Regions from separate parts of the Homo sapiens genome. Here regions 1 and 3 are each linked to region 2. The links come from fine-mapping of genetic effects on gene expression. A gene starts in region 2. Each other region holds a variant in brackets. All regions are shown on one strand. Distances are between the middles of the regions. Region 1 overlaps EBAG9 (estrogen receptor binding site associated antigen 9). Region 2 holds the start of EBAG9 (estrogen receptor binding site associated antigen 9). Region 3 overlaps SYBU (syntabulin).

Evidence for each region. PIP is the estimated chance that this variant, and not a neighbour inherited with it, causes the effect. A credible set is the group of variants that fine-mapping cannot tell apart.
Region 1: its variant is the best candidate, but not a certain one, in a credible set for the expression of EBAG9 in skeletal muscle (FUSION, PIP 0.56).
Region 3: its variant is the best candidate, but not a certain one, in a credible set for the expression of EBAG9 in lung (TOPMed, PIP 0.63).

Annotation. Positions count from the first base shown.
Region 1 is chr8:109,559,782-109,569,962 of GRCh38, reverse strand. EBAG9 (estrogen receptor binding site associated antigen 9) reads right to left here. Exons shown (of 7, transcript NM_004215.5): 6 at 9,034-9,125; 7 at 3,967-5,524. The coding sequence ends at 5,404. Among named protein-coding and RNA genes, the nearest start is that of EBAG9, 25 kb to the right of the region's middle. The variant C/T (reference allele first, on the strand shown) is at 4,793.
Region 2 is chr8:109,536,301-109,546,481 of GRCh38, reverse strand. EBAG9 (estrogen receptor binding site associated antigen 9) reads right to left here and starts at 6,309. Exons shown (of 7, transcript NM_004215.5): 1 at 6,021-6,309. EBAG9UORF reads right to left here and starts at 6,756. Exons shown (of 1, transcript NM_001436381.1): 1 at 6,682-6,756. The coding sequence starts at 6,756. The coding sequence ends at 6,682. PKHD1L1 (PKHD1 like 1) reads right to left here. Exons shown (of 78, transcript NM_177531.6): 78 at 9,275-10,181. RefSeq lists an enhancer at 5,941-6,300 and a silencer at 6,361-6,910.
Region 3 is chr8:109,592,753-109,602,933 of GRCh38, reverse strand. All of the region lies in intron 3 of SYBU (syntabulin), which reads left to right. Among named protein-coding and RNA genes, the nearest start is that of SYBU-AS1, 46 kb to the left of the region's middle. RefSeq lists an enhancer at 7,297-7,376. The variant G/T (reference allele first, on the strand shown) is at 6,320.

The DNA of each region.
Region 1 (10,181 bases), 23 kb before region 2:
ACATACAAATGACTGCACAGGCGGGAAGCCCTGCCATTGGCCTCCCCCTGGCCCCCTGCGGGGGTCCTGGTATTACTTCTGAGAAGAGCTTGCATGTCATTTCCCTATATACCAGGTTCTTTGAAAACTTCCAGTTCATGTAAGATCTCACGTATGAAAACTGTTACTTGAAATACTGCTCTGGTTAATGCTGAAGATATGTTTCTCTGTTGCCCTAAATAAGGAATGCTTAACAAAATTGTTTTCTAAACCTTTGTTACAAAATTTTGTCTGCCAGTGCTTTGTTGGTCTAACTATGAAGAGGACTCATTCTCTCTCCCTCAGATTATAGAAGCCACGTAAGTATCTGGGACTATCATGATACATATAAGATGACAATGTATTATAAAATCAAGTCTGACTCCCCTTGTGAATATTAAAGGTAGGTATCATGGCTTCTCTAATTTGATGGTGCAGTTAAGACCCTCTCTCCCCTTCCTCGCAATTAAAGTAGCTCACAATGTTTGAAATGGTTTGCCAGCCTCACTTTCTACAGTAAACAATAGGTGCTGGCATTTAAAACTGACCTTTAATTCTTCTGAACCAGCACATTATTTCTAGCTTGTTGGTTGTATACAGAAAATGAAAAATGAAAGCTGACAATAATTTTTACATCTCCCACTGGAAGCTGTACATGGACAAGTTTTAAAAATGATCGCCCGTGCACTGTCTCACTCCATAAGGGCTCCTTCTAATCAAGACAGATTAGGTAATTACGAGGTTCAGATGCACTGCAGAGCCTCACAAAGCAAAAAAAGCACTTGTATTTTCACATTTTAAACTTAAATGTGACAAGCTAAATATATCTATATTCTTATGCACATCTTCACTTAGCACTGCAATAAAATGCTGAGTTAATTTCAGAGGCCACTATATCTGACGATGGTGTTTTCTCCATAAAATAGGTAAGCACTGCGTTTATTCAGGAATAGTCAACAGGTTTGGAAATGGCATTGCTGTATAAGAATTCAAATTAAGGTTTGAATATTTTAACAAATAAAACTAATTATGGGCAGTAGTTAATATCTTATAAAGAGCCAAAATTGCTCCAAGAATAAGTCAACATACTGATCAGAGTATGTCCTTTGAATTTTCTATACAAGGAGATGTTTTCTTCTGTGCCATTCATTCTCTCAACTAAATCCTAGACACTCACTAATAACTGACAAGGTCAGGGACAGTTTGTAGCAGGAAGGACTCTACGTACGATACTGATCTGCACATGCATAGAACCTGTGGCCTTGACCTCATTATAATTATGACCCAATCAAGTGAGCTAATTGGCTTATTTCTGCAGTTGTGTGAATATAAATCAATTTCATTTTGCCTTATCTGACCCAAATAAACTGCAAATATGAAATTATATGGCACTGATATTCAACTACAGTTGTCATTTATATGAAAATAAAAACCAAGCTAATTTTCTTCATATTTATTAAATTATTAGAAAACACAAATGGGTATTATCTACTATAATTTGTAATGCTATCTTCATTAAGAACTAGGAGAAACTTTAAAAGGCATTTTGGCGGCTCATAGTTCCGTCAAGAGAGGCCTTAGAAATCATAGTCTACATAGACTGTTGATTAACCACTATTATAACCTCCTCTCTAAGGTTGCTATTTTCCATTCCATTAATCAAGTACACAATTTATTTTCTAGGCCTTGGTTTCCTTATATGTGAAATAAGGGTAGTATCTCTTACAGGATTGCTAAGAGTCACTGATATAATTAGTCAAAGACTCAGACTTACAATAAATGTTTTCTTTCTTGCTAAATTTCAAGTTCAATTTAAAGGTGTATAAAATACTGCAAGATTAGGCAACTTCTCCCACTCTTTGCAGGGAAGGGGCTGCCAATACCACTGCATGGTGAGATGTGGGAAGTATATAGGGCCTCATACCAACTTCCAATTATTGAGTGCTTATACTGAACACTTATGTACAGTCTCAATCCTTACAACCACCATTTCCATTTAAAAGATTTGCAAACTCTGGCAATTTGTTTAATGCTGTACTACCTCTACAGAAGCTCTGAGAACTCTGGGAACCTCTCAGAGCCGGGGTGATCTGATCAATGTATATAAGGAAAGCATCTACAGAAAGATCCCCTGAAAAGAAGTCCCCTGAAAGGGAAGGCTGGGATTATCTTGGACTGGCCGCAGACTTTCAGTGAGCTTCTCTGCAAAAGTTTCCACTGGTGAACTAGCAGTGTCAGCAGGAGGTATGAAAGGATAGAAACAAATCTGTTGTTGAAGGTAAAAGATGGTCAAGGAGGTCCCTAGAATAGAGTGTTTCTTTCAAGCTATAGAAGATCGAAGGTGTCTGGTGAAAAAGCATTTTACTAGCTCTCAAAACCTACTCTGGTTATTGAGTATGCCCAATGGTCATGACCAAGAGGGATGGAAGATAAAAAGCAGAAGGCAATGTAAAAAAAACAAAAAACAGTTGAGTATAAAAAGAGTACCTAGCTGTTGCTGTAAGCTTGGGATAGTTTTGGTTAAAGAAAAGTGAAAGGAATTACACAAAGAAAAAAATAAATCTCTTCGTATTGTATTAGGACAGAGCAGTTCAAATTTAAAAAAAAAACTATGCAAATGACAAAAACAAGTTTAAGTTATTAGCTACTAAATATGCTCTTCATGAACCCACTATCTTCTTCAGCCCTCCAGTTCACCTGAGAGGGTATTAGCTCCTTCCCTGGAACAATCTGTAGGCTCTAGCCCACTCCCAACCTCCCAGCAGGGATCCATTCGGAACCCTGTCATGTTTGCTTACATGCCTGAAGATTTCCTTTGAGCAAGGGGTTTAAGGAGTATGAAAACCATCGTTGGTTATTCCAAATCTGAACTTCATAGGATCAAACAAGATGAGTATGTTAGCTCTGTCTGGCTCAAACCATCCTTTAGTAAACATACCATTCTCAACAAAATTCAGGCTTTTTGGAACACTGACTATGGTTAGGTTTACGCCATGGTGGTAGCTTGTAGAGTGGTGTTGGAAGCTCGATCCAGATGCTGGTTTCTGTAGGTACCTTCTGCCCAATCACCAATCTTCATGTAGAAACAACCTAGAAATAATCACCCAGAGGCAAGTGCATGTCAAAACTGAGAAATTCGGATGCAGAATTTCAAATTTTCAGTTCTAAAATGTCAACTCAATTAAACATGCTATACTAAAAGAAGAGCCAAGTAGAGAATATCCCTAGGTAAAGCTTAAGAAGAGGAAATGGCTAGAAACCATGAAATTACTACATAAAAAACAAAACAAAACAAAAAAAAACACAAGGTAAGTTTCCCATGTCTTTGATTACTTGTTATCTCAGTACATGAAATGCACGATTTTGCTAATGGTTAAAACTTCACTAATTCTATCTATGCCTACCAGTATTTCTTATTATTTCTAATAAGCATCTAAAACTGACAATTCTTTATTGAAATCAAGAAAACAAAAAATAGAAACCATAAATTTAGTAGCTAAAAGAGACAGTATGCTACCATGAATTGTTTGTCATATGCATTTAACTCAGTGACTACTTTTGGGACCAAAATATACCCAAGTTAATACAGGAATTTAGTTTACACATCAATAGAGATAAAATAAATTCCAGAATTGTTATCTATTCTTTCCACAAGAAAAATCTATTTCTTCCTAATCATACTAACTATAATTGCTAATGTCTTTATTTTTAAATAATCAAAAACCAAAAAGCCAAACAACAACAACAAAAACCTCAAACACATGAAAATCATGACCAAACCAAACTTAAATACTTTTCAGCTACTAGGGAAAAGCAATACAAGTAATTGAGCTAAAGGAAGTTATCCTTTATGAATTCCAAATTTAGAGAAGATATGTTGTATTCCCATAATAACTAACTATAAATACAAAGAAGGAAGAGAATACATTATTAAAACTTTGAGCCCAATTCTATTTAAGTTGGGAGTTTATTAGCAGAAATTCTAATGAATATAATAACTGGAAATATAATTTGGGGCTATAAAAAGCTCTGTACCAAAGTTAACTTTCATCTTATTCTATAATCACATTTAGTCTGAAAGCTTAGGCTAAGGGCTTAAAGGGTTCTCATTGTATAACTTATGATTTTTCTATAAAATATCACTTTAAGTAAAATAAATTAGTAAGGTTTGGCCTGTACAGTATCTATGACATTTCAAAATCTCACCGAATGTTGATTCTAGGCAGTAACTTAAGAAAGTAAAAATCCTTAAAAATTCCAAAATGATAGGAAAATCAGGCTGGATGCATTTCAACTGCGGTGAAAAGGTTAATGGGATTTTAAACTATGAAGTCTACTTTTCCCCTACAGACCCAGTATTTATTTCCTTAAGACTATTTTGGAGCCAATCAACATCATAAATAAAAGATTATTATTCCCACCTTTATGATTTAATGAATCAATAATGTTTTCCTAGCCAAGAACACAGGTAACCTACATAACGTCAGACATCTAAAGCTAGTACAGAAATCATCTAAAGGCTTTGAAATATTTGACCTGATGGCTTTAAGCATTTGTAAATTAATGGCTTTTGGGAGGAAGGAAGAACTAAGGCACTCAAAGATACCACAACATCTTACAATCTATAATGAAAGGAAAAAACTACTAATACTAGTTCTTGAAACTCACAAGTTATAATGTAGAACAAATGTCATTTTAGTTGATTTTCAATGTTTATACATGTGATATAAATTACATGTATGACAACACTAATCCAAAAGAAAATAATGATGTA[C/T]AAAATGTTTATGATAAGTAAAATTATTGCATTTAATGTCATTTTCATGAAATGAAAATCATCAAATTCCTTAATGTTGTATCAAACGTAAACAATACCAGTTCAAATTAGAGGGAATGTATGTCAACACCAACTTTTGACAAAAATAAGAAAGCTAAAGCCCTACAATTTATCTAATTTAGGTCAGGTAACCATGGAAACAAAAGAATATTAAAATTATTTATTTTATCATTATGCACATTGAAGGAAATCATAACAGACAGTACAGTTCTTTTCCACCATAAAATTATATACACCCATTTATTTAGCTAGAAACACTAGCTTGAGAGGTACTGATATATTCCATTTGTGATACTTTCTGTACAGCAAACAAATGTCTTATATTTGGAGCATGTTGAAGAAAACATTGTCTCAAGTCTTTTTTGTTTTTTTGAGTCTCAATCACTAAGAGTTCAAGGTACTTTGGGAGAATCGTGGTGTCCTGGATGGCCTGATCAATGTATTAAAATCAAGCAGTATGTCTTCTTAAAATACTCTTAAATCCATACAAATGTTGCTTGGGTTGTGGAGCTGAGATTTCTCCTACTGGCATGATAAAATTTGAACATGTGTTATGAAAGTTTCACACCAATTTTGTTTTGTTCCTTCTTCATTAGCCGTTGTGCTTCCTTTTCCATTTTCTTCCTTTGTTGTTCGGCTGCTCTCTTTTCTCTGTCTGCTAGTTTCTGCTGTCTGAAAAGAAACATACTTTTACTTTTAGAAAATACCAAACAGGTAAAATGGCAAATAAATTCTAGAAAGAAATAGCAGTGCCTTTTTATTATCACCAAATAAAATGTTGAAAGTCTTAAAATTTTCTCACTAATTTGAAAATTCCAAATATTTTCAAAAACAGGATTTCTCTTAGTCCTTAGAACGTGACTTGTGAAATAGAAGAAATATTATCTCTATTTTACAAATAAGTAAAATGAGGCATAAAGGCTAAGTGACTTGCCCGAAGTCATAGGATTAAGTACAGGGATAAGAACTCACATCTTCTGACACTTCTTATTTAGATTATCTCCATTTTGTAAAACAATACTTCCATTGAACCACATCTTTTTCTGGGGATACCATTCAGAAAAGCTTGATATTGAGCTTGATAATCTCCTGTTATTATAGTAGTTACAAACAGCCAGTTTTTAAAGTGCATGATGAACACAGCTGAACAGAACACACGCTCCAAAAAGAAAATGGAAACTTAAGATACACCTTCCACCAAGTAAATTTCAGGATTAACATGTGACTAACTCTACCAAAGAGAAGAGTGGTGGGTATTTAATCAAATACTGCATGTTCTCACTTATAAGTGGGCGCTAAATGATGAGAACACATGAACACATAGAGGAGAACAATGCATACTGGGGCCTACCGGAAAGGCTGAGGTTAGACGGAGGGAGAGGATCAGGAAAAATAACTAATGGATACTAGGTTTAATACCTGGCTGATGAAATATCTGTACGACAAACCCCCTTGACACATGTTTACCTGTGTAACAAACCTGCACATCCTGCACATGTCCCCCTGAACTTAAGTTTAAAAAAAAAAAAAAAAGAGTGGTAGGTATTTACTAATCATACTTTGTGAAATACATACCTGTTCCTTACTCTTTCCGTAACTCCACTGACCCAGACTCACTCTCTCTATCTTTACTGATTGGTTAATGTAGGGAGTGGAGGTAGGAGTGGGATGATGAAACAGGAGAGAGCAGAGTAAACATACATTGGTCCTGGATCTGAAGGGTTAGGGTGTGAGAAAATCATTCAAGTATGCAACGTTGAGGAAGGAAGCTACAGGTCACAATTGGGCATGGAATAGGCAACATTAGGTTATATGCAGAAAAATCCAAAGTGGATTATCTATGTCTGGGGGAGCTCAATATTAACTACAGTGAGTGAAATGTATGTACAGTTCTCAGTCATAAACAGGAGTAGGCAGAGTTATGGATGACCAAAATTCAAGAAAGTAAAGAAACTATTTTTGGCAACATTTTGACTTTTGCTATCAATTTCTGAAGAATAGTTTTAAAAAATCTGTTTTTCATCACTCTGCTGATGTTCAATAAAAACTAATAATCTGAACTAAAAATGTCAAACCAGAAGAAAAAAGGGAGGTAGAGAAAAAATTATAAAGGGCTGGCTAGGTTATAAACAAGTAAGATAACGAAGTTTTGACCTGGTTACTAGCTGAAATAATATAAGGGCTGAGCATCCCAAATACAAAAATCCGAAATCTGAAATGCTCCAAAATCTGAAACTTTCTGAGGGCCTACCTGATGCTCAAAGGAAATTCTCATTGGAGCATTTCAGATTTTAGATTTTCATATTTGGGATGATGAACTAGCAGCAGAACACAAATATTCTAAACTCTCAAAAATTTCAAAATCTGAAACACTTCTGGTCCCAAGCATTTTGGAAAGGGATACCCAATCTGTATCAAAAACTAAAGTATAAAAGAGACAACTTACGAGATAGCTGCAGACAAAAATACATTTTACCTATCCAGATTCATGCTGGGAATTATTAAAGTACCAGAATCTTCATTCTTAGCAATACTGATCACAGTACTGGCATTATTTATAGTGGCAACAGGAAAAAAGCTCAGAGTTAGACAATACGGAATGTGGATACACTTTTAAAATGCTCAATGTCTATTCAGGGGCAGTAACAATGTACTGACACCTCCATTTCTCTTTGGCTCTACCTATGTACTTGCGGCATGAAGCATGTCTATTACGGATTAACAATCTCACTCTCCCAAGCTGTCCTTAAAGGGTAAAACATTAAGTTTTTAAGTACATTTTTTCATTTGTTTTGCTTAGGGGTTAAGAGGCTAGAATGAAAAAGAAAAGGTTTTTGTACAATATTAAGATACTTGTGAACTCATGGCTTGAACTCTACAGTGAGATTACTGTATTTAAAAAGGACAGACCCCTTCCTTTGTCTTTGTGGTTAATGGCACTAATAATTACTAGAATCCCCAAAATGTCTTAAAATACTCAGACATCTGTATCTATTATTTGTTTTTTAAAATAACACAGAATTTTAAAGAGATGATTTATCTTTTTTGATGATCCATGCAATATCCTAAGTGTTATAGTTCACAATTTAAAAAATATTCCCTTTATAAAAGATAAGCTATACTGATTAAATAAGAACTAAATTTTAAAAACTCTCACAATTTTACTGACTGAATTTTGAAATGTGACGTCCCCTAACCTGCAAAAAAAAAAAAAAAAAAAGGGCTTGATATATTTCAAAGGAAAAAAACAAAAACTTCAAACAAAATTCCCAGTTATTTAGCTGCACCCTCTGCTGGTTGTTCACAGTAACTGTAATTTATTGACAAAGCCAAGAAAGGAAAATACAAAAATGAAATCAGTTTTTTTGTTGAGTCAGATAAAGAATAATTTGTCTGCTATTCCTATGGTAAAAACAATCTCAATTTTAAAATAAAAAAATTTATATTGCTGTATCTTACTACACAATTTAAAAAATGTATGAATTCTTTAGATGCATTTAAATATCTGACTTTTAAAAAGCAGTAATCAGTCACTAGCTCTCCCTTAAGATAAATTTTCTCTTTACTCTTTGACCTAATGTAGCAGTACTAAGAAATATGTTTGCTGCTCACACACAAAAAAGAACAACCAATAAAAATGAACTTTAAAACTTCCAGAATAGTATTTTTTTGCAGAATGGGTAGTTCATCTAACACATAGGGCTTTCATGGACATCATTTAAGATATATGTACAAATGTAGAGTGTCACATAAGTTATTTTCACTCAAATGAGCAGTACTGGGCACTATGCTAGATCATGAGGAAATGGAAATAAAGTTGTAACTTCTGACCTAGAGGAATATCAAGCTTGTAATATGGTATGTATATGCATATAACCTTATATATATATATATAAAACATATATATAAAACCTTTTATATACATGTATATATAACACTCCATTTGCCATTAATAAAGTTATTTTGTTCCTATAGAGCTTAAAATTCTTGGTTTCTGTGAGGTTTTAATCATATAAAATAGTATCTGCAGTCTGAAATACAAAAAAAAAAGTCCTTATTATCTAAGGATCAAATGAAGAAAAATATAATATTTGGCAAAATAGGCTCCCTTGACTTGAAACACAGCAGGGAAGAAATCTAGTTCTTCTACTCAGGTTGCAATATAAATGCCACTCAAATACCTCAGAACTTCTTCTGCTTGCCAGGCTGCATCTTCTTCTTCTTCCCATGCATTGGTATTTTCCTGCCAGGTATCTAAGTCACCTAATTCAGACTACAATGAAAAGTAAAACAAAATTAAGAGAGTAAAAGCCATCCTTTCTCCACATAGCCGTTAAAAAGAGTATCTTTTAACACATAACTCAGAACCTGTCATTCTCCTATGTCTTCTCAGCTTCCTTACCCTGTCCTATACAAGGCACAGATGATTTTGCTTTTGGCTTGCCTAGAACTGATGTATGACTTTCAGTGTTCAACAGTCCTAGGCAAGGCCAGCTTTCTTCTTTATGTTTCATGGGATACTCTCTTAAATTCTCTTCTTTGCTGTACTTTATTTTGGAAGGAACAAGAACAGAACATGTCTTTTGTTTCTTTCTCTCCTCAGTAAGATGAGGGAGCTGGGGATAGAGTGACAAGAAACTGACTGATCCCAGACTGAATTAGAAATCCTTGACTGGACTAATCTGTGCTGAGAAGAACTGCGAGCTGAAGTTCAAAAACTAGCACAGTCATTCTTCATTTAAGCATATGTAACTTACTGGAGATTTTTTATTGGCACTTACTGTCTCAATCCTAGGCAAAAATGACAAATCATGCAAAATTTATCTTTAATGAAATACTTCTAGGTCATGCTTCCTTTTCCCAGTCTTTCTTACCTGGTATCATCTACTGGTCCCTACCTCTATTTCCCAAGCCAGACCTCTAAAAGTTCACTGTTTTCTTTCAATAACCAATGAAAATGGTCATGCTGGACTGTTTAGGTAGGTGTGGAAGTGACTGTGTGTAAAATAACTGGTACCAATCTGTGAACACATTTATTTAATATCATATTGTTTTAAATACTTACCCCTAAAAATGAAATAGAATGTTTTGAGTTTTCTTCTCCTGAGAATATATGTAATACCATACTCTGTTAAAAATTCTTAAAATATTTCTAATTATTTAATATACATTTCTGAAAGGAGGATTTTTAAAGCTACTGAAACAAAGTGCAAATGACAGCCTTGAAAAGTACCAAGTTATCCTCTTGACCGCAGTAGGTAGAAATCCTGCCTTTTCTTCTCCCTTTTTTTTTTTAGGAATCAGCGTTTCACTTTGTTGCCCAGGCTGG
Region 2 (10,181 bases):
CAGTGCCTTGTAATGAGGCAGGGAGAAGTGGGAAGGAAGGATCACTGACAGACATGACGAAACTTTTGGAGGTAATGGATATACTTACGGCTTCAGTTGTGGTGGTTTCATAGGTGAGTGTATATATATTCATCAAAACTAATCAAATTGTATACTTTAATTATATACAGTTTATTGCATTTCAATTAGAGCTCAAAAGAGCTGTTAAAACAATCTACACGAAGACATTTTTGAACAATATTATGTCACTTAAATTAGAACAGTGTTCATATTCTGGTTAGAATACTGTTTTAAAAACTCATTAACACCATCATAATCTTGTATCAATTATTTGTTACTTTCTAGAAAGCCAACTTCCATTAGGAAACTAGGACAATTAGTGAAAAGAAACATTATTTCAGAACTTCTCTAAAAACAGAAATCTGATTTCACAATAGCATTTCAATATACTGTAATAGCTTACTTTATATTTCATAAAAAGCATTCTTCTTAGTGATTAACATGTAATACTCATTCAATGCTCACAACAACCCTGGGAAGGACTTGAAGCAAGTACTATTTTGTCTCTACTTCAGATAAGAAAACTAAGGCACAGCGGGGTTAAGTAAGCTGCCAAAGATACAGAACTGATAAGTTATAGAACTGGAATTTGAACCCAAAGAGTCTGGTTGTAGTGTCTCAGTCCTTAAATATCACACTCATACTGCCTCCCTATGATTAAATAACAAGATATATGTCTTTATGAAAGAGATGATATAGGAATTGAAAACTACAGCCATAGCAATGATAGGAATAAAGATTCTAAAAATGATAAAACTATGCTGGGCGCGGTGGCTCACGTCTGTAGTCCCAGCGCTTTGGGAGGCTGAGGCGGGCAGATCACGAGGTCAGGAGTTCGAGACCAGCCTGGCCAATATGGTGAAATCCCGCGTCTACTAATAATACAAAAATTAGCCAGGTGCGGTGGCACATGCCTGTAGTTCCAGCTACTCAGGAGGCTGAGGCACGACAATCACTTGAACCCTGGGAGGCGGAGGTTGCGGTGAGCTGAGATCACATGACTGCACTCCAGCCTGGGCAACACAGTGAGACTCCATTTCAAAAAAAAAAAAGGTAAAACTGGCATTATTTTGGTAGCCTTTTTTTTTTTTTTTTTTTTTGAGACACAGTCTCGCTCTGTTGCCCAGGCTGGAGTGCCATGGTGCAATCTCAGCTCACCGCAACTTCCGCTTCCCGGGTTCAAGCAATTCTCCTGTCTCAGCCTCCTGAGTAGCTGGGACCACAGGTGCCTGCCACCACACCAGGTTAATTTTTGTATTTTTAGTACAGACAGGGTTTCAGCATGTTGGCCAGGCTAATCTCGAGCTCTTGACCTCAAGTGATCCACCCCCTCAGCCTCCCAAAGTGCTGAAATTACAGGTGTGGGCCACCACGCCCGGTCTGTATCCTTTTTAAACATGGTTCTTAATTTCCAAATTTTTCTTATACATCTTAGTCACCTATACTATATATGTATTGCATATATTGTATACTATATATGTACTGCATATATTTACCCTAATAATCACTATTTAATTTTAAAAATTTCTTAAGATGAGTTTTGGCACAAGTTAAAGTTGAAAACTTAAGTAACTATGACAATGTCCCGACTAAGAGCCTCAAAATACACACGAAAGAGGGAAAAAAATCTGTTAATCCATTAGAGATAGTCATTTTTCCACTGTTGAGAGGTAGAACAGACCACATGTTAAATCAAGTCACAAGAAATACACAGGCAAACATACATATGTGTGTGCATATGTGCACACACTTACAGGAATAACATTACTGATAATGGAATCTCATGTCTTAGCTTTTCCTTGCCTTCTCTTTGTCAAAGGAGGAGAATTACTATGTATTCAGAATCATGATTCCTGTCATTGGAACAGCTGGAGAATACGTCATCCAACTTCTTAAATTTTCTAAATGAGGAAACTAAGATACACTGAAGTTAACGGTTCTGCTCAAGGTGAAACAACCAGGTAATAACAAAATCACAACTAAAACAGACTGGCCTCTCAATCCATTAGTAACACCTTTAGAAACAATCACAACACTTGATTAATACAATTATTTAGAGTGCTGACTTCTTAAAACAAAAAGAAAAAACATACAGTAATTTGATAGTTTTTTTTCCCAGAATAAAAAAGCACAAGCAGTATATTTGGACTTCAGTTCTACACATACTTACTTAAAAGCGGATAAAACCTAACTTAAGTAATAATTATCATGTGACCACATTAAAGGGACAGCTATATACCTTTTTAAAATTGAAATGTTAATTAGTTTTTTAATTACCTTACATGAGCATAAGATAAGCAATAACATTTAGAAACATAAGGAGTAAAATCATCCTGGATAAATACACCATCCCTGTACTATAACATACTTTTTTTTTTTTTTTTTTTTAATTGAGATAGAGTCTTGCTGTGTCACCCAGGCTGGAGTGTAGCAGTACAATCTTGGCTCACTGCAACCTCTGTCTCCTGGGTTCAAGTTATTCTCGTGCCTCAGCCACCCCCAAATCTGAGACTACTGGCACATGCCACCACACCCGCTAATTTTTGTATTTTTACTAGAGACGGGGTTTCGCCATGTTGGCTAGGCTGGTCTCGAACTCCTGGCCTCAAGTGATCTGCCTGCCTCAGCCTCCCAAAGTGCTGGGATTACAGGTGTGAGCTACCATGCCCAGCCCATGCTTTTTAAAAATGCATTTCATGGGGATTCAAGACTCCTAAAGTCTTGAAAAAAGCAGCTTTTTACCTAATAAAATATTACATTGAATAGGTTAAAAATTATATAGTAAAAAAAAATGGTCATCTCTGATAGGGTATACTGAAGCATTAGAGAGCTAAGATCTAATATCTCAATCTGAGTAGTAACACCACATACTTGACTGTATGTACTGTTTGTATGCTATACCTCAATACGAAAGTTCCAAACAAACACATAAAAAATAAGAACAAAACAAAATCAGAAAGCCAGAAAAACATACTTAACTCTCATAGTATCTGATCTTGATTGCTCTGTAAAGGCATCATTGCCAATTTCTTCTAAGGAAAGGCAAAACGCACACTAGTCTTTTCTATTTCTAGGGTCAGAAGGGGCTTGTAGGCTATTAAGGTACAAAGACAGGGCTCTAAAATGTTACCTTAGCAATACTCAAGTAGTTTTGTACATATGGAGGCTGTCTCTCCATATAAGCTGAAAGATTTACTGAATGCCTAACCTGGAAGTGGCCTACTAATTGACAGGATGAAAAGAACAGTGACTGTTAAAAAAAAAAAAAAAAAAAAAAAAAAAAAAAGAACCAGAATATTAAAAATTGTACTCGAGTTATTTAAATACTTCTGTCAAAAACATCCCAACCAGTGGTTTACTCAAGTTCAAATCATGCAACAATGCTGACTCCTCCTTTCTTTCTCCTTACACCTAATTGCCAAAAAGACCCTATTCAATTTCCCAGTACTGCCCATATTCTTTCCTATTTCCACTGTAATCTATCTAGCATAAGCCTTTACTACCTCTTGCTGGAGTACTGTAAAGTCTTCTTAATTCTAGTATTTTACTCTTCCCAAGAAACAACATTTTTTATTTTGTATTATGGTTATTTCTATACCTTACTTTGCCCTGTACAACCCTTCTCTAGAGTATTTTATTCATTTGGTACCTTCAGTTACCATTTGCAAAGTAAGACTTGAAAAAAAAGTTTGATTGCTTCATTATGAGTAGAATGATCTGAAAAATTATGATGGTGAACAATCACTTCATTTAAAGCTGATTTGTCAAGAACAAAACTCTCAATCAAAAGAAAACTTTCTCAAATGAAAATTAGCCTAAATTTTCTGAAAAATTATAAGAAAAAAGAGCCAGAAAAGAGACTACAGAACGTGTGGTACTTGGCAGGGAAGGAAATAGAATCAAGGAGATACTCTATCAGTATGTTGTGAAGAAAAATGATATTTACCATTTGGGACTGTCAGTTTTAGGATATACATGAATAAAAGTTGAGAATAAATTTCATAAACTGCCCTAGTAACCACAGCCATCACCTTTCCAAATATTGTTAGTGTCATTGTTTTATAAATATTTGCCAACTTGAATAACTTCAATGCTAACTGGAGGTAAAATTTAAAGGTTGTTTTTTTTTTCCCAATAAAAAATAGAAACTGGGTCTTTTAGTGATTACAGAATAGAATTCTCTCCCTAGCAATCAAGAATATCCTCATTCTGCAGAAAACTTCCTTTTGTGATTAATAAAAGAGGAGAACTGATACTCATTGACTGTCTACTATGAACCATGCACTATCAAAATGTTAACACACAACTCAAAAAGCCATCTTATGACATAGATACTATTGTCCTTGTTTCATTGAATTAAACACAGAGTAAGCACATCCAGTGACTCCATTCAAACCTAGGTATATTTAATTCAAAAGCCAAGAACATCTCATGAACAAGGAACATTCTTAATAATTCAGTGATACTACCACTTCCAAGATAAATTTTCCAACCAGTTGCACTAAAATAGGGAAAATGCGATCAAGCCACACTTTGATTTTATCAATCACACTGACTGGCAGGCAGGAATATCCTTTGAGACCTGTATTTACTTAATGTCCCTATTCATCTAAATGAATATATATTAGCACCTACTATGTTTCAGTCGCTACTTTGGATTTGGAAGCTGGGAAATACTACCAACTCCGCATGGGGAAACTCTGCGTTCACTCCCAGTTGTCATGAGCTTGCCCATAAACTTATCCCTGAGGAATGCAAGAAACTAAGGAGGCAGGACGTCCATCAGTCTTGCTCATTCTGGTATTTATAGGTCTCAGTCAAAGCCGGGCACATAGTAGGTACTCAAATATTTGTTGAATGGAAGGAAACTAACATTCCTTGAGCACTTGAACGCTCAAGACAATGTTCGATCACCTCACTGGAATCCTAAGGACAACCAAAAGAGGTAGGTTTTTCACTACTCCCGTTTAATAGATGAGGTTGACAGACTTAGATTCACTTACCCAGGATTTAAAGGGACTGACCCGAAAGCCCAAGGCTCTCCCTACATCATATCCTACTTAAGAAACCTTTTAATTGTGTGCACATTGCCTCAGTGCGATTTTTGAAATGCCCTCTAGATCACCAATTTGATAAGTATCTTACGCTACTTTACACTTTAGTTGCTTTAAAACACTTTCTAGAACGGAACAATGTTAATATAATCTAATCTTAACATTAAATTTCCTTAAAAATTACAAAGACAAAAATTTGAGGTATATCAGAATGAGATTCAAAACTATGAGGCAATGTATCCTCATTAAGGCTTTTTGAAGAAATGACAACTCTAGGAAATCAAGAATGAGAGCTCTGCCATGTTAACGGAAAAAAAATACAATTAAAAAAAGAATGCTACATTAGAAACTGATAGATCAAATGTATTATATCTTTTCTTGTTGAAATTCTCGGTAAACTGCTAGAGGTCCTTTCAAGTAGCCTCAATACATCACAATTCACAAAACAAGCAAAGCCAAAATCTATGTTCGGTACATACTAAACAGGTGCTGTATTTCTAAAACTCTATTTACGAATCTTTTCATACCAAAATTTGAAAACCATATGATCTAGTACAGTCCAGAATATCCTCAAACTATAACTCTCTGAAGTGGGTTAGAAAATATTACAAAGCTCCCAAAATAAAATTTACCTGAACTCACTTAAATTTGATAAATAAAGGTTTGAGCAGCGGCCCGTAAGAGAAGGGGAAACAGAAGCGGAGTGTGAGAGCTGGTAGTAAAATCGAACATTCTGTGCCATGTCTGGCAACCGAGAGTCAGGCCCTCAAGTATGTGACACCACTGGGGCGGTTCCGAAGGCGGAGTAAGGTCTCCAGAATAACTCAAAAGGAAAGAGTTTCATAACTTAAGTGGTTTCATTTCAGATTACCCACGTGAAATTTGTTGATGAAAAAAAAATCATACCCACTGCACAGATGAGAAAAACAGGAGCGTTTTCAGGTTATACAAGCCGACGCCTGGCGCCCGGCGTGACGTGAAACGCTCTAAGTTGCTGGAGCTGGATACCAGGTGAACTGAGATTTAAATTGTGGAAAAATCGGCCTGGAGAGGTACAAGGCCTGTAGACGGAGGGCAGTAAGGTCACGCAAATTTCCCTGAGGAAGGCGGCTTTGGAGGCTGCGTGCTTTCCGGGCCGGTACCCCACAGCCCAGTCTCCCACGCGTGAGCGGAGCATGGCGAATGCTGCACGCCTGGGTCCCGCTCCCAGTCGCAGTTTCCTCACCCCAGAGGTCACCCTGACCCGGAAACAGTACCCAGAGCAGCTGTCGGGCGTCGAGGGAGGTCTGGTGGAAGGGCGAAAGGAAGGTGGGAGGGCGGGAAGTGCGCGGCTAGGCGGAGGGCCGACGGCGAAGGGCAGACAATGCCCCAGAGGCTAGGGCTGGGGTCGGGATGGGGGTAGGGAGAGGAAAGCCCCTCCCAGGCACGCGCGAACCGCACACACTCACCTGCCCCTCCCCCTCCCCGCCCGCCCGGCGGAGGCTCCGAGCTGCCGCGGGCCGCGCGCGCACACAAGGCGCGCTCACGCGCGCTGCCTGTCTCTTCCTCGAGCTCGCGCTCCGCCCGCTCACTCCCAGCCCCGCTCATTCAAAGCCGGGCGCGCGCTCCGTAGCAGCCTGCGTTGCCTCTGCGCAGCTGCCATGGCCGCCCCTTCATCGGGAAACCCGCCCCCAGCCCCTCCTCTAGCCCCGCCCCCAGCCCTCCTTGAAGGCGGCTCTCGGCTGTCTCCAGGCCCTCGCTTCTGCACTCCGCCTCAGGTCCTGGCTGGCCCAATAGGTGAGAGGCTACGGGTCTGACGTCGAGACTGGGAGCCAATGAGCCCTGGGAGCGGGGCAAGCGGCGACAGGCACGCCAGGTTCGGTGAGGGGTAGCTTTTTGGGACTATTGCGAGCTGCTTTGACTGTTTATTCTCGGAGCGCCTGCTTCTGCCAGATGTCCCTACTTTCCTTCTATGCAGAGTGCCTCCCCTCCAGCAAAGTCCCTTTCTGTTCAACCCACAGAACCCCTGTGTCAGATGCGACCAAGGAAAATACACTGCAACAAATGAGGGATCTCCCTCTGTCTCAGGAAGATTTGGATGTGGCTAGACAGACCCCCTCCCCTCAGTCATTCCGCCACCTCAAAGATGTGGAATGCTGAGTTTAATTCAAGACGTAGCCTCCTCCCAGTAATTTTTAATTGAATTGTGTTGAACTAGAAATGAAGAAGTGGCACTTCACCGTGTCCATGCATTTGTTCCTCACATGCACCCTGGACTTGCCCTTCTTTCAACCTGAGATGTTCTTTCCTTCAGTGCTTCTCTCTTTGCAGCCTGATTCTTCTTTTTATCTTGTATGCTATGAAAGGGGTTGTTATGTGCAGGGGACCCTCAGAATACTATGCTCCACAGTTGCAAAGTGACTGGTGAGGGAGAAGTGAATAGGGTCTAAGGCCAAAATCAGTTTATGCAAATTGTTCTCAACAAGCCTTTTTCTTTATATGCCTTTAATTTTTTTTTTTATTACAGCTGCCTTTGTTCTCCCACCCTGACCCAGCAACCACCTACCCACTTAACTTTGTGATAATCTACCACAACCGTCCTCTTTCCAATTTGCACCACGTTTTTTATTAATAATTTAATTTCCAAGACGGGAAAGATGTGTTTATGGCTCGTGCTCTGGAATGGTTCTGTGTAAAGTTGGGTAAAATTATTTAATCTGTTCACCTCAATTTCCTCATCAGTAAAATGGCCATAATAGTGCCTACTTCATGCAGTAGTAATGCTTGCAAAGCTCTCTTAGCACAGAGCCTGGCACATAGCAAACATTCATAGATAACAGTTGTTGCTGCAGCTACTACTACTACTGCATTACTATTGCATTACTACAGTATCATTTCCGGTAATTGCATTTCCCAAAGGCCATGCAACCCCTTTCAGTCCCTTAAACACCTGCTCTAACTTTAATCTCTAGAATTCTAATGCCTAAATTTCAATATAAAATTTCTAAATTTTTTTTGGATTTAAAAAATCGAGTTATCTAGCTGGGCACGGTAACTCATGCCTGTAATCTCAGCACTTTGGGAGGCCGAGGCAGGAGGAACGCTTGAGCCCAGGAATTTAAGACCAGCCCAGGCAACGGGCGAAACTCCGTTTCTACAAATAATTTAAAAATTAGCCAGGTTTGGTGGCGCATGCCTGTAGTCCCAGCTACTCAGAAGGCTGAGGTGGGAAGAATCACCTGAGCCTGGGAGGTCGAGACTACAGTGAGCCATGATTGGGCCCTGCACTCCAGCCTGGGAGACAGAGCAGGACCCTGACTCAAAAAAAAAAAAAAAAAAAATCCAAAATAACCTATATTCGGATATAAACGTGTTTAAATTTTTTTTCTTAAAGAGTTGATTGCTTTAGACAATTTATTATGCCCAAGGATATTTTCTTCTTTTTCCTGATTCTTCAGTTTTCTTTATTAAATTTGCCATTTCCAAATGAAACAAAACGAAATGTATATACTTTTCCAGAAACAGCTAGTTACTGAGTACTTGTTTCCCAACACAATAGCAAAACAGAAAACAAAGCTCGCTAAAGACTGCAAATTTAAAATTTACTTTAGTAATACCTATAAAATAATATTTTAAAATCATCTTTACTTGTTAAATAGTAAGCCCATAATTGGGATCACAAGTCAATAATTTGGGATTGGGTTTAGGGACCACCTCTTGGGAACAGGGAACTTTAAGTCCTGTCCTCTCCCCAAAGCTTGTGTGGGACGGGGGTAGGAAACCACCAGATGTCAAATGGGAGGAACATAAGGGATAGAACCTGGCATATGAATTTCTTTTACTCAATGGAATATAGTAAATTCTGTCTGCTCTGTGTCCAAACCATTTTGCTCACTTTAACGCTTCTGATCAGCCTCTGCCCAATTACCAGCTTGATTTATTCACACTATCAACCTCCAGCCCACCACTTACTCTCCCCTTTCAAAGCCTACATAGGCTTTGTTCTGACTTCTCCAGCTGGGGCTAACTCTGGCCTTGTCACCTGACCTGGCCCAGGAGGTAGGAGCAGACTGCAAACACAGCCCTCTGCTTCCAGATCTTTCCCAACCCAGTTCCCTGGCTTTTCATCAAAGGGTGGGTTTTTTTTCCCTCAAACACAATTTTAGACCTGCTGTTCTGACTTGGACTTTAATGGCTTTTTATTAATGAGCAGCTGTTCACAGTTGAATACAAGATCATAAAGTCACATTCATTTCTTGATCAAGTAAAACAAAGCTTTGCCGCACATAGAGTGACATCTTTGAGCAGATACATTTGAAAGCATAGGATTTTCTGATGAGAATTTTAATGAATTGTTTTATTAATCTTCCTACTGGAGAATTTTACTTGCTTTCAAAATAATAAACATTAATATTCTGGAAAATTATAACTTCTTTTTTAATACTCAAAATCACCATATACTAGTTAGGGTCAATTGCCTAATAGAGAAATCAAACAGTCTGAAGCAGATTTTTTATTTCTTTTCTATTAAATGAAAATTAACTTTCTATGAAGCATTTAAATAAATTTTTCCTCATAATTGTTATTACAATTAGCAGTAACTTTTATTGCTAAATACAGGAAGATTCAAAATTTAGTAACAATTTAGAGTTAACCAGTTTTCTTCAGAAGGGGCCTGGTTAGAAATCAAGAAAAATAATACATATATTTTAGTAGAAATAAATTCAAATGAAAAGATGAGGTGAATTCTCATTTTGTGTTCAGTGGTGAGGTTCAGCCACATCATACTTCTGGCTAATGTCCACATCGTTATTAGATTTATGACAGAGTTCAGCTATATTATGAATTAAGTAGAGTTGATGGGAACAGCATCTGGCAGTCTAAGACCTTTTGTTATTTCTAACAGTAAATGTATTGAAATTCATACAACCAACATAAAACAGTAGTTTGTAAATCTATCTTGTACATGGATTGAGAAAGTAGAAATAAAACAACATGAAACAATGTGAGACTCATTCATTGAGCTACAGCATGATGGACATCGTGACTTTGACCTTGAACAACTTTAAGCCTCAGTTTTCTCATCTG
Region 3 (10,181 bases), 56 kb before region 2:
TGACTTCATTATTCTGTTTCTCCCTTTCTCATTTGAGTTCCTTGAACACATGTCAGGGTTAAAAACAACCCCAACGCCACTAAGCCTTCCATTTCTCCATTTGCTTTTGTTCTCACACTCCCTACAGATGCCAGAAATTGCCAGAATTTACCCAGCTTATTTGTTTTATTGTATTGACGTTTGTGCTTGCAAACGAAATTTACATGAAAGATTACACAGACACCTGTAATCCCAGCACTTTGGGAGGCCAAAGTGGGTGGATCGCTTGAGGTCAGGAGTTCGAGACCAGCCTGGTCAACATGATGAAACCTGTCTCTACCAAAAATGCAAAAATTAACCGGGTGTGGTGGCATGCTCCTGTAATCACAATTACTCAGGAGGCTGAGGCAGAAGGATCACCTGAGCCCAGGAGGCAGAGGTTGTAGAGAGCCGAGTTTATGCCACTACACTCCAGCCTGGACGATGGGAGTGAAACCCTGTCTCAAAAAAAAAAAAAAAAAAAAATTACACAGAGGTTAAATCTAGTATTGATCTTGGAGTACCTCAATCCATTCTTATCAGATTATCCAATTCTTCACAAATTCTTCAGGCAATATATAAGAGACATTGTTCTTTTCATTTGATTGAGATATTTCCCATTTTGTTTGCTTTTCCAAACATACGTATCTCCACTCAATTGTTCTTTTATGTGGGTAGCACTGCAGTCAAGCATATGGCATAAGATAAAGGTGTTTTTTAATGTTTAACTTGACTTTATCCTTTTTCTATTTTTAATCATTTTGTCCATCTGGAGTGTCAAATGATTTTGAACCCATACAGTTAATTTTGTGGAACCTAAGAGCTACCTGGAAAGGGTCTCCTTTTTCAGCATTCCTTTTCCCTTACCTTATGACCCATCTCCAAACTGTAACAGTCACCTGAATTCCCCACCAGCCTCCAGTCTCTCCTTCAGATATTGCTGTCATGTTGTCTTCATAAAGCATCACTGTTCATGTTACCACCCCAAACAAAACTCATTATGGTTCTCTCTTGCCTTCAGTATGTCATAGTTCCCTCTTGCCCATAGCATAATTTTTACATTTTTCAACTCTCTGGTTACAACTCACCTTTTTGGCTGCATTTTCTCATATGATCACTATATTCTAGCCATACAAGGGACTCCATATATGTACTAAACATGCCCTGTGTTTTTCTTCCTCTGTGTTTTAGTTCATGTGATCTCTTTCACCCAAGGTCAACTCCTGTCCATGCCCCCAACACTATATTCTTCCTGGTGTATCAGGGCCATCTCAAGTGTCATCTCTCCCATGACATATTCCCCTGCCCTCATCCCTTCACCCTAGCTAAGAAGATTTCTTCCTCCTCTGTGTTTTCTGGGTGCCCGCCCTCTCTGTTTGCACTCATTGTATTCTGCCTTATATCCTGGTTGTTTGTCTGTATAGTCTAACTCCTCCTAGGAAACCCTTGAGCATTGGAACTGTTTCTCCATGCCTCCCCCATCCAGTGCCTTAGCCTAGGAAGTGTTTAACGCATAGTTGAGATGGACTAGATTGAACATTGTTGTCTTGGTTTCCTGATCTTAGATCTTTGTGAATTCTGATCACAAGGATCAAGCAGAGTGATGTCAGACAAGCCAGCTCTGCTGCTTAGTAGCTCTGTGATTTGGGGTGAGTCTCAGCATCACTCAGAACTTTGGTTTCCTGGTCTTTACTTGTATGTCTTTGGGAGGAAGGATTAAAGGAAATAGCAGCTGTAGAGTTCTTGGCAGAGTAGGCTCTGAGTCCACAGTGGCTAGTGGCATTATTATCTGATGCTGTCATCCGATGCATTAGTTATCCCTTCAAGGTTTTGTGTAATCAGGAGTCTGCCGCCAACACCACACCATCCATGATTTCATTCATGTCATTAATAAAGCATGTTAAATAGGATATGGACAACACCAGGGCCAGGTGATGTGTTACTAGAGATTTCCCTAGAGGTTGACAGACAGTCCATTTGTCAACATCCCGTGGGTACTGGACTGTGCTATCACCCAATGCACACATGTCGACCTTGTTCATAAGAGTATCCTAAGTGTTTGCATTAAACGTCTGCTGAACTCCAAATATGTGATGTATGTGGCCATGTTAACTCCTTCAGAAAAGGATGTGCAGATTGTTTTTCACATCTGAGCCAGTGAACTCCTGCTGGCTCCTTCTTGCCTTATTAAAGGACTTTCTCTACAATTTTACTGGAAATCAACACCAAACAGCAGTTTGTGATTTTCAGAATTTATCTTTTCTCTATGTTCATGACCTGCAGAGTTTTTGCCCATTTCCAATCTTCTACCTCCCATCCTTTCCAGTTTCTCAAAGTTAATGATACCATTTCTGCAATCATATATGTAAGTTCTTTTGGTACCTTTCTTCCCTCATTCATTAAATATTCTTCTGAGTCTCCTATAAGCCAGGCTCTGTGCTCTTGGCTCTGGGGATGCAGTGATGAACAAGACAGAGGTCTTTGCAGTTAGCGTGGTTTTTGCATGCTGGTATCCTGGGCTGAAAACTTGACTTTTAAGAGGTTTGGGCATACAGGCTGGAAGTAGGAGTGGAAGGGAGTATTTTTGTCCTAATTGGAAATAACATCAGTCTGTCAATCCAACCTAAAGGGCAAAATAGGAGAAAGAGGAGCTATCCCTAAATGCCAATGGTGGAGAAACTTTTAATGCTGTGAAATAACATTTCAAAACAACAGCACCTACTCTGTGCTAAACCCTGTGTGACACATGGGGATACAAAAGAACACGCCCTCAAGGAGCTGACAAGCATACTGGAAAATATGTTAAAGCAAACAGGCAATTGCAGTGCAATGTGATAAATACTTGTTAAATTCTTGGTGGGGTCAGATAAAGGAGGGCCACCTAATCCCCTTCCTGAAGGAAGTAAAGCTCAAGGCTAAACTGAGACCTGAAGAACAGGTAGTAGTTAGCCAAGCCCAGAGGGATGGGAAAATAATCCAGCTAGAGGGAACAGCATGTGTGAAAGCTGGGAGTCTAGAGGCTATCGTGCCTCCTTCAGGAAACTGTGAATGGTTCCATTGGCAGTGGTTATGGTATGACAGTCTGAAGAGATTATGGAGGGTTTGTAAATCGTGCTAAAGAGTTTGGACTTCATGGACACAGGGTGCCATTGAGGAGTTTCAACAAGGGAATTGCCTAATGAGGTTTCTTCTCTGGAGTAGTGTGGAAGACAAACTGCTCAGGGCCACAAGGAGCAGCTGGGCACAGTGTGATGCTGTTTCAGTAATTCTGGGTGAGAAATGATGATGGCCTCAGGTGGAGAATTCAGGATGGGAAAGAGCAGACAGATGACACAGTTACTAAACAGACAGATTTGAAAACAAGAAGCATTTGTTGTAGTGATTTCTCAACATTACTGTGCGTAGAAGATCACCTGGGCAATTTGTGAAAATGGATTATGAGGCTGACTTAAAGAAATTTCAATCAGCAGATCTGGAGTATGAGTCAAGAATCTGTATTTTTAACAAAGAGGCCAGGTGATACTGATGCAGGTGGTCCTCAGACTGTACCATAAAAAACCCTATCTATTTGATGTTTCAAATGGCAACACTTCTTTAAAATGTATTTCTGTTATGTTAACTTTTTGCTTAAGAATGAAGATTCAATCCTATTATCTTTGTCGAAAGTAGATGAATGACACAGCCCCAGGGTTTACTGTGCAAGGGCAGTCTCCTTGCTAGTATAGTCTGTGTTCACTAATTGTTTGCTCTCTGGTGGGGGATACAGAATAGAGTAGTGATGATTTCGTTAAGACTTTTTATTGCAGATTGTTTGTAAATGTGTTTTCAAAGGTTTCAGTGCAAGCAAACACTTTGGGTGGGATGGGGGGTGAGGGTGGCAAAATTGCCCCAAGTCTTGAAGTTCCACGCAGGTATACTTTCCTGGTGTTTAAGGCACATTTTGAATCTTATTGTGATGTTTCAGATCCCCACATAAGGGCTGTGTGACCTTCAGCAACTTACCTGTTGTCTACTTTCCTCACCTGTAAAATAGGAATAATAATTGTACCTCTTTCATATGCTTGATATGAAGATTCAATGAGAATGCCTGTAAGGCACTTTGAACAGGGTGTGAACATAACAAGCCATTTCTAACTATTCCCGAGAGAAACTAGGTCATCTACAACTTATCACTTGTATTTAGAGTTTAGTCACTTAATAAATACCTTTCCTTCTTAAATCACATTACTTAGATAGTCTACAGTGCCCATATGGAAGAATTATTAGAAAAATTTAGTGTTTAGCAGCACACATACCAAACACGTGGATAAGTAGGCTAATGATGATGATGATGATGAGTATTTACTGTGCACTTACAGTAGTTCATATTATGGCGTTTAATTCTCACAAAAATTCCATATGATAGGTACTCTTTTAGTCCCTTTTTACAGTGAGTAAACTTAGGCATAGAGAGGTTAAGTGATTGCCTGAGGTCACACTGTCATTAATGAAAGAGTGGATATTTGAGCCCTGAATCTGCTGATGCTAGCACCTGCTCTTAACCACAGCTGTTAAAAACATATTGTCAATTACATGCAGCATGGTTAGTACCACTCAGTATTATGCCAAGTAAATTAAGCAGTTCACTCATTTTGGATGTGAAATATGTAAAAATGTTCCCAAAATATATACTACAGTGTGTATCTGTATGTCAAATTACAGTCAAGCCGGCTGCTCTCACTTTGTCAGAGGCAGCCATTCAGGAAGCTGCTGGGGGATCTCAGGCATAGGCCTGTCTTAGGGCAGTGGTCCTCAAACTTTAGCATCTATATTCCTGGAGGGCTTATTAAAACATATATTACTGGGTCTCACCTCTACCCATAAGTTATTTAATCTTACAGAATGTCACCTCTGCTCCTAAATTAGTCATCTTCTCATTCTTCTGAAACAGTGACTCTCAAAGAGTGGCTCCAAACCAGCAGCATCAGCACCACCTGGGAAACATGTTTCTGACTCACTGAGGATGGTTTAAAATCTATCCCATAATTGCCTGACTCGCTCAACAGACATTTAACTTCACAAAGACATTTTGAAGTGACAAGTCATCAGCTCTAACACATAGATGCTTAGATAAAAATCAAAAGATAGAAATTTTTACTTTGCCTGTAACATCTAAAAAGCATAGCAGTTACTTCCTCATATAGACTCAAAAAACTTTTTTTTGAGACAGGGCCTTACTCTGTCACCCAGGCTGGAGTGCAGTGGCATGCTCATGGCTCACTGCAGCCTCAACCTCCGGGGCTCAATTGATCTTCCCACCTCAGTCACCTGAGTAGTGGGACTATAAGCGCATGCCACCATGCCTGGCTAATTTTTTTTTTTTCAGAGATGGGGTTTTACCATTTTACCCAGGCTGGTCTCGAACCCCTGGGCTCAATTGATCTGCCTATCTCAGCCTCCCAAAGTGCTGGGATTACAGACGGGAGCCACTGCACCCAGCTTTAATATAGAGACTTAACTGGTGGCTTCTCCTTCTCCAAAACAGTGGGGCTTGCCTTAAAATGATGATCTTTTCTTCGCTTGCAACTTGGAATTAGGCCTTGGAATTAGGAACAAGTTCTGGGCTGCATTAAACACCAGCACATACCGTCAGGGAAGCTTTCCCCCATCACTCTTCCTCCCCACTTTGGGACAAGAGGTTTCTCCCTCGATGAGGTTGTATGCATAATCCAGCAACTCTGGGTCAGCTTCTCATGTTCATGGGCCCATCTCCTTGCCAAGTCTTAAGTACAGGGTTGTGAAGTGACCTAAGCCAAACTCAACAGGGCATCACGTAATTCCTGATCTTTGAGGGCTATTCAGGGTCAGAGCTACCATGAGACAATGGGTCACCTTAGGCATATTGGACCCTAAAATTGGAATAAGGTAAAACAGAGATTCTAGTTTTACTTTTACTCTTCATAACTACTTTTAATTATTCATAATGATAGGAAGAAGGGTAAATAAAAGTACAAATCTGTAAGGACAGGTGATCCACAGAGCATTTCTTTTTGCCTATGGAATACATTATTAAGAGTAGATTTCCTCTTGATTTTTCTTCTTAGACTCTGGAAATGCAAATACATGTTTATCAGAATGGAAAATCTAGCTAAATGAGTAACTGGAATAAAGTCAACTCATTTTCTCATTATCGGGAGAATGAAGTATAAATTATGGATAAAAATCACACACTCTAATATTATGTAGCAGTCAAATGAACACACTACAACTATATGGAGAATTTTCGCAATATAATATTGAATGAAAATTGTCCCAAAAGATT[G/T]TATATACATCATGATAACCTGTTTTATTTTAAAAAGTTAAAAACAAATAAAACAAAAATCCTCAAATTCTACCTTTTAAAAATACATAGATGTGATCATTCTTTGTAAAAGTGAACGCAAGGAAATGGTGAACAGGGGATAAGATAAAGGAAGACCACATAAATGCATGTAAGTTAGTGTCACTGTTCTAGTTTTTGTGATGGATTGGTGGTTTCTTCATTTATTATATTAAACATAAACAAAACATAAATACCTAAACAGAGCAGTCAGTAAATAAATAAATTAAAGATAGCCTTGCATGGGCCAATGATGACAGAATGTCAAAAACCAAGAATTATGATTAATCCAGTTCTTTGTATCTGAGACTCTTTTAAAAAATACATTGAGAGAACAACTTTCTAGGTCATAGAGAAAATAATGAAATGTCATTCACGTATAGAAAAATAGTTCCATGCTTAGTTTCGTATGGCACTCTCTGACCTGCCACTTCCTCACCTCACACGTCAGCAGGTTCAGCCTCTAAATGGAGATCAAGAAGGGCACGGATCAGTAGACCATTAAGGGTTGTCAGTGGAATCACTTCAGACAGAATTGTGGCTGTAGGATCCCTAGAATAGGAAAAATATGTGCTTCCTTTTCTTTCATTTTCACCTCTCTGAGTAAGGTAATATGTTTGCATATTTTATTAGAGAAGTGAAAGTGGGAATTTTAGAAAATGAAAAAGACCTGTGTGTCAAATATGAGCAACTCTTAACCTGACCAGTGGCAACCACTGGGACCTGTGTCTAAGGAAGGTTTTAAATTCGCCTGCCTCCAAGTTCCCTTTATTGCCTCATTCCCTGCTGTTGCTTCTAATTCTTTCAGCATTACCATCTCTGTGTGCTGTTCCCTTCACACTGTGCTGTCTCCACAGCTCTGCATGCTACAGTCCTGAATTGTTGTAAATGGCTTCAAAACCTGGCTAGTTCAGTGTGCCTCCTCCATGAAGTCTTCATGCTTCCAGCAGGAAACAGTCTTTCCCATTGTTGACCTCTCTTAGCACCTAACTTGAGTCCCTCCTAAGACATTTGCCTCTCTCTGAAGGCAGGACTATGGTCTCAGCCCACGTGTGCTAGCAAAAAGCTGGAGAACACACAAATATGAACTGATGTGGAGATAACAGCTCTCACCATGTGTTATTCGTGAGCCACAGACCCTATAAGAAGGGTTGGGTCATTAGCTCCCTGTTGTTTAGTGTGCTGCAGGCCTTCCTGTGAAATTGGGATATTCAGTCAATACAGCTAAGGAGGATTTACTCACTGACTTATAATCTAAAAGAAGAATTTTTACCATCCTCTGCCAGGACCATCTTTTATTTTTTTTATTTTCATGCTTGTTTTGAATCCTTTCTTGCCACTCACACTACACAACAGCCTCGCCTCATTCCTTGTCACTGTTCTAAGTTCTTCCAGATTTTGGCCTCACATGTTTTGGGACCTTGATATGGTTCAAAGAGGGTAATCATAAGAAGAAAAGTAAAAATAATAGTGAAATTTTAAAGTGCTTACTGAGTGCCAGCACTATTTTTACATGTTTTACATATATTATCTTACATCATCCTTACAACAACTCTATGAAATAGATACTATTATTATTCTCCTTTCATAGAAAAAAATGAAGCTCAGAGAGCTTGTCTTTCCCAAGGTCACACAGCTAGCAACTGAAACTACTAAACCATATTATTTTTAAAAAGGCAGAGAAATAACTTCATAGAGACTGAAAGTACAAGTGAGAAAGAGAGAGGAGGGTGAAAGCATGTCAAGATATTGGAAGGGGAGCATGGTTGAGTCCAGTGTCAGAACTCTGCTCTGTTTAAATGCAGTGGAGGTGGAGGTCAGTGCTACTGAGAAAATCCAGGGAGTGAGCCACGTGCGAGACATATGCAACCTTCCTGACACTCTGAGTGCCACTGCCAAGGGAAGAAAGGAACCTGTGGGTTGAGAAGATAGTGTGCCCTGGAAGTTGTCACACAGTGAGGATGAAGATGGGGGTTGAATGGTCAAGGTTGTTAGGTCTTAGAGTCAATTAAGAAAAGCCATGTTTAAGTACAGAAGTGAGTTTTTTAAAAAAAATTATTTTAGGGCCCCATTGGATGTCTTGGCAACGAGTTGTGAATTATGTCATCTGTTTCCCAGTAAGTGGGTGTTTTATTCCATTTGTGGTCTAGAATTGCAAGCAGACAGCACCACCTCACTGAGATGAAGAAGAGTGGAGAATGAGGTGACTCCAAAACATTCTCATCTTTTCCTTCTCCCTTATATTCTGGACTGAGTCATAGACTTAAATCCTAGCCCTGTCCTGACCTTCTGTCTTTCCTGGTGTCTCACTCCCCATTTTTCTCTCCCAGTCCTTCATCACCTCCTTCCTCCCCTATGAATGCCTCCTGCAATGACACCCCTGCTCCGCACCCAGCACCACCATTAGTGCTGCTCTTCCTGATGTAGGTTTTCCTGCCAGACAGGAGGGCAGGCATCTCATTTTGGTAAACACTGGATAAATGCTTCTCCTTAAATAGAAGCAGCAGGCTTTCCAGCTAGTTCTTTTAAGGGGGTAGAAATTCAGTTCACTTCAGTAAATTTGACAAGAAATCAAAGATAAGTCCCATGTACAAGTCTGTAAAATACTTCAGGGAGGATTTGCTCTGTTATTACTTGGTCCCCAACATAATGAGCTAGGATGACATTTATGACCACGGTGGATGTAACCTTTCCCAGACCTGTTGGGTGAAAGGCAGTGGGGGAAGGGCTGCCCGTTGGACATGCCTGCCACTGGAGTGGTTCCTGAGCTGAGTCAGTGTGGGAGATGATGAATGCCTGTGTGTAGTTCCTTTGATGCTGTGAAGCATGTCTGCCATGGAAAATTCAGGTTGGCACTGATGGAATAACCCCAGTGCAGGGTATGCTGGATTGTGAAATGTTATTTCTCTGCTGAATGGCATTTGACACGTTCAACAGCACACTGGTTGGACCCTTCTCTTTTACAACAGGATTATGAGGACTTTGAACCATGAACCAACTGTTAAGTGTCCTACTAGCTTTGCAAACCAACATTTGTGTACATGAGTTTGGCTGGAACTGGCCCAGTTTCAAACAACCTGTGCCTTATGTACATTCTGTCTTTCCCTCCAGTCCTCTGATAATGTATTCACTCCAGGCAAGTGTTTCTGGAGAGCCGTGGGGGTACAGATCATTCTGTAGATTAAATTCTTCTCTCAGAGTGCACTTTGCCCGTGAATTTCTTCCTCTTCCTTTTGCTGGCCTGTCTGTCTTCATTTCTGCTCACTCATTGTTCACATCGCACTGAAGAGAGCTCTTGCAATTTGACAGAACTTGGAGAGAAAGTCCAGGCACTTTTTTACCTTTGGAGCTCTCTTCCTCATAATATGGTTCATGGACCACCTGCTGCACAATCAGCTATAGTAATTATCAAAAATGCAGATGCCTGGGCCACCCTCCTCCCAGATCTTCTGAACTGGAATTTTTGTGAGAGTTTCCCAGAAATCTGCACTATTATTAAACTTCCCAGATAAATCTTCATGCACAGTTAGGTTTAGGAACCACTGCATTATTAATAATAATTTTAAGATTCGTATTTATGAGTGTGTCAAGCACTTTCTATGCATTAACTCAATTCATTTTCACAGCAACCCAATGGGATGGGAATCATTATCTTTGCACTTAAAACAGGATTTGACACATGGCAGGTGCTCAATAACTTTTTGCTAAATAAATAATAAATTAACCTTTTAAAATGTGTGTGTATACATATATAAGTAAGGCTTAGATAAGTTAAAAAAAACTTGGTCAAGATACACAACTAGTG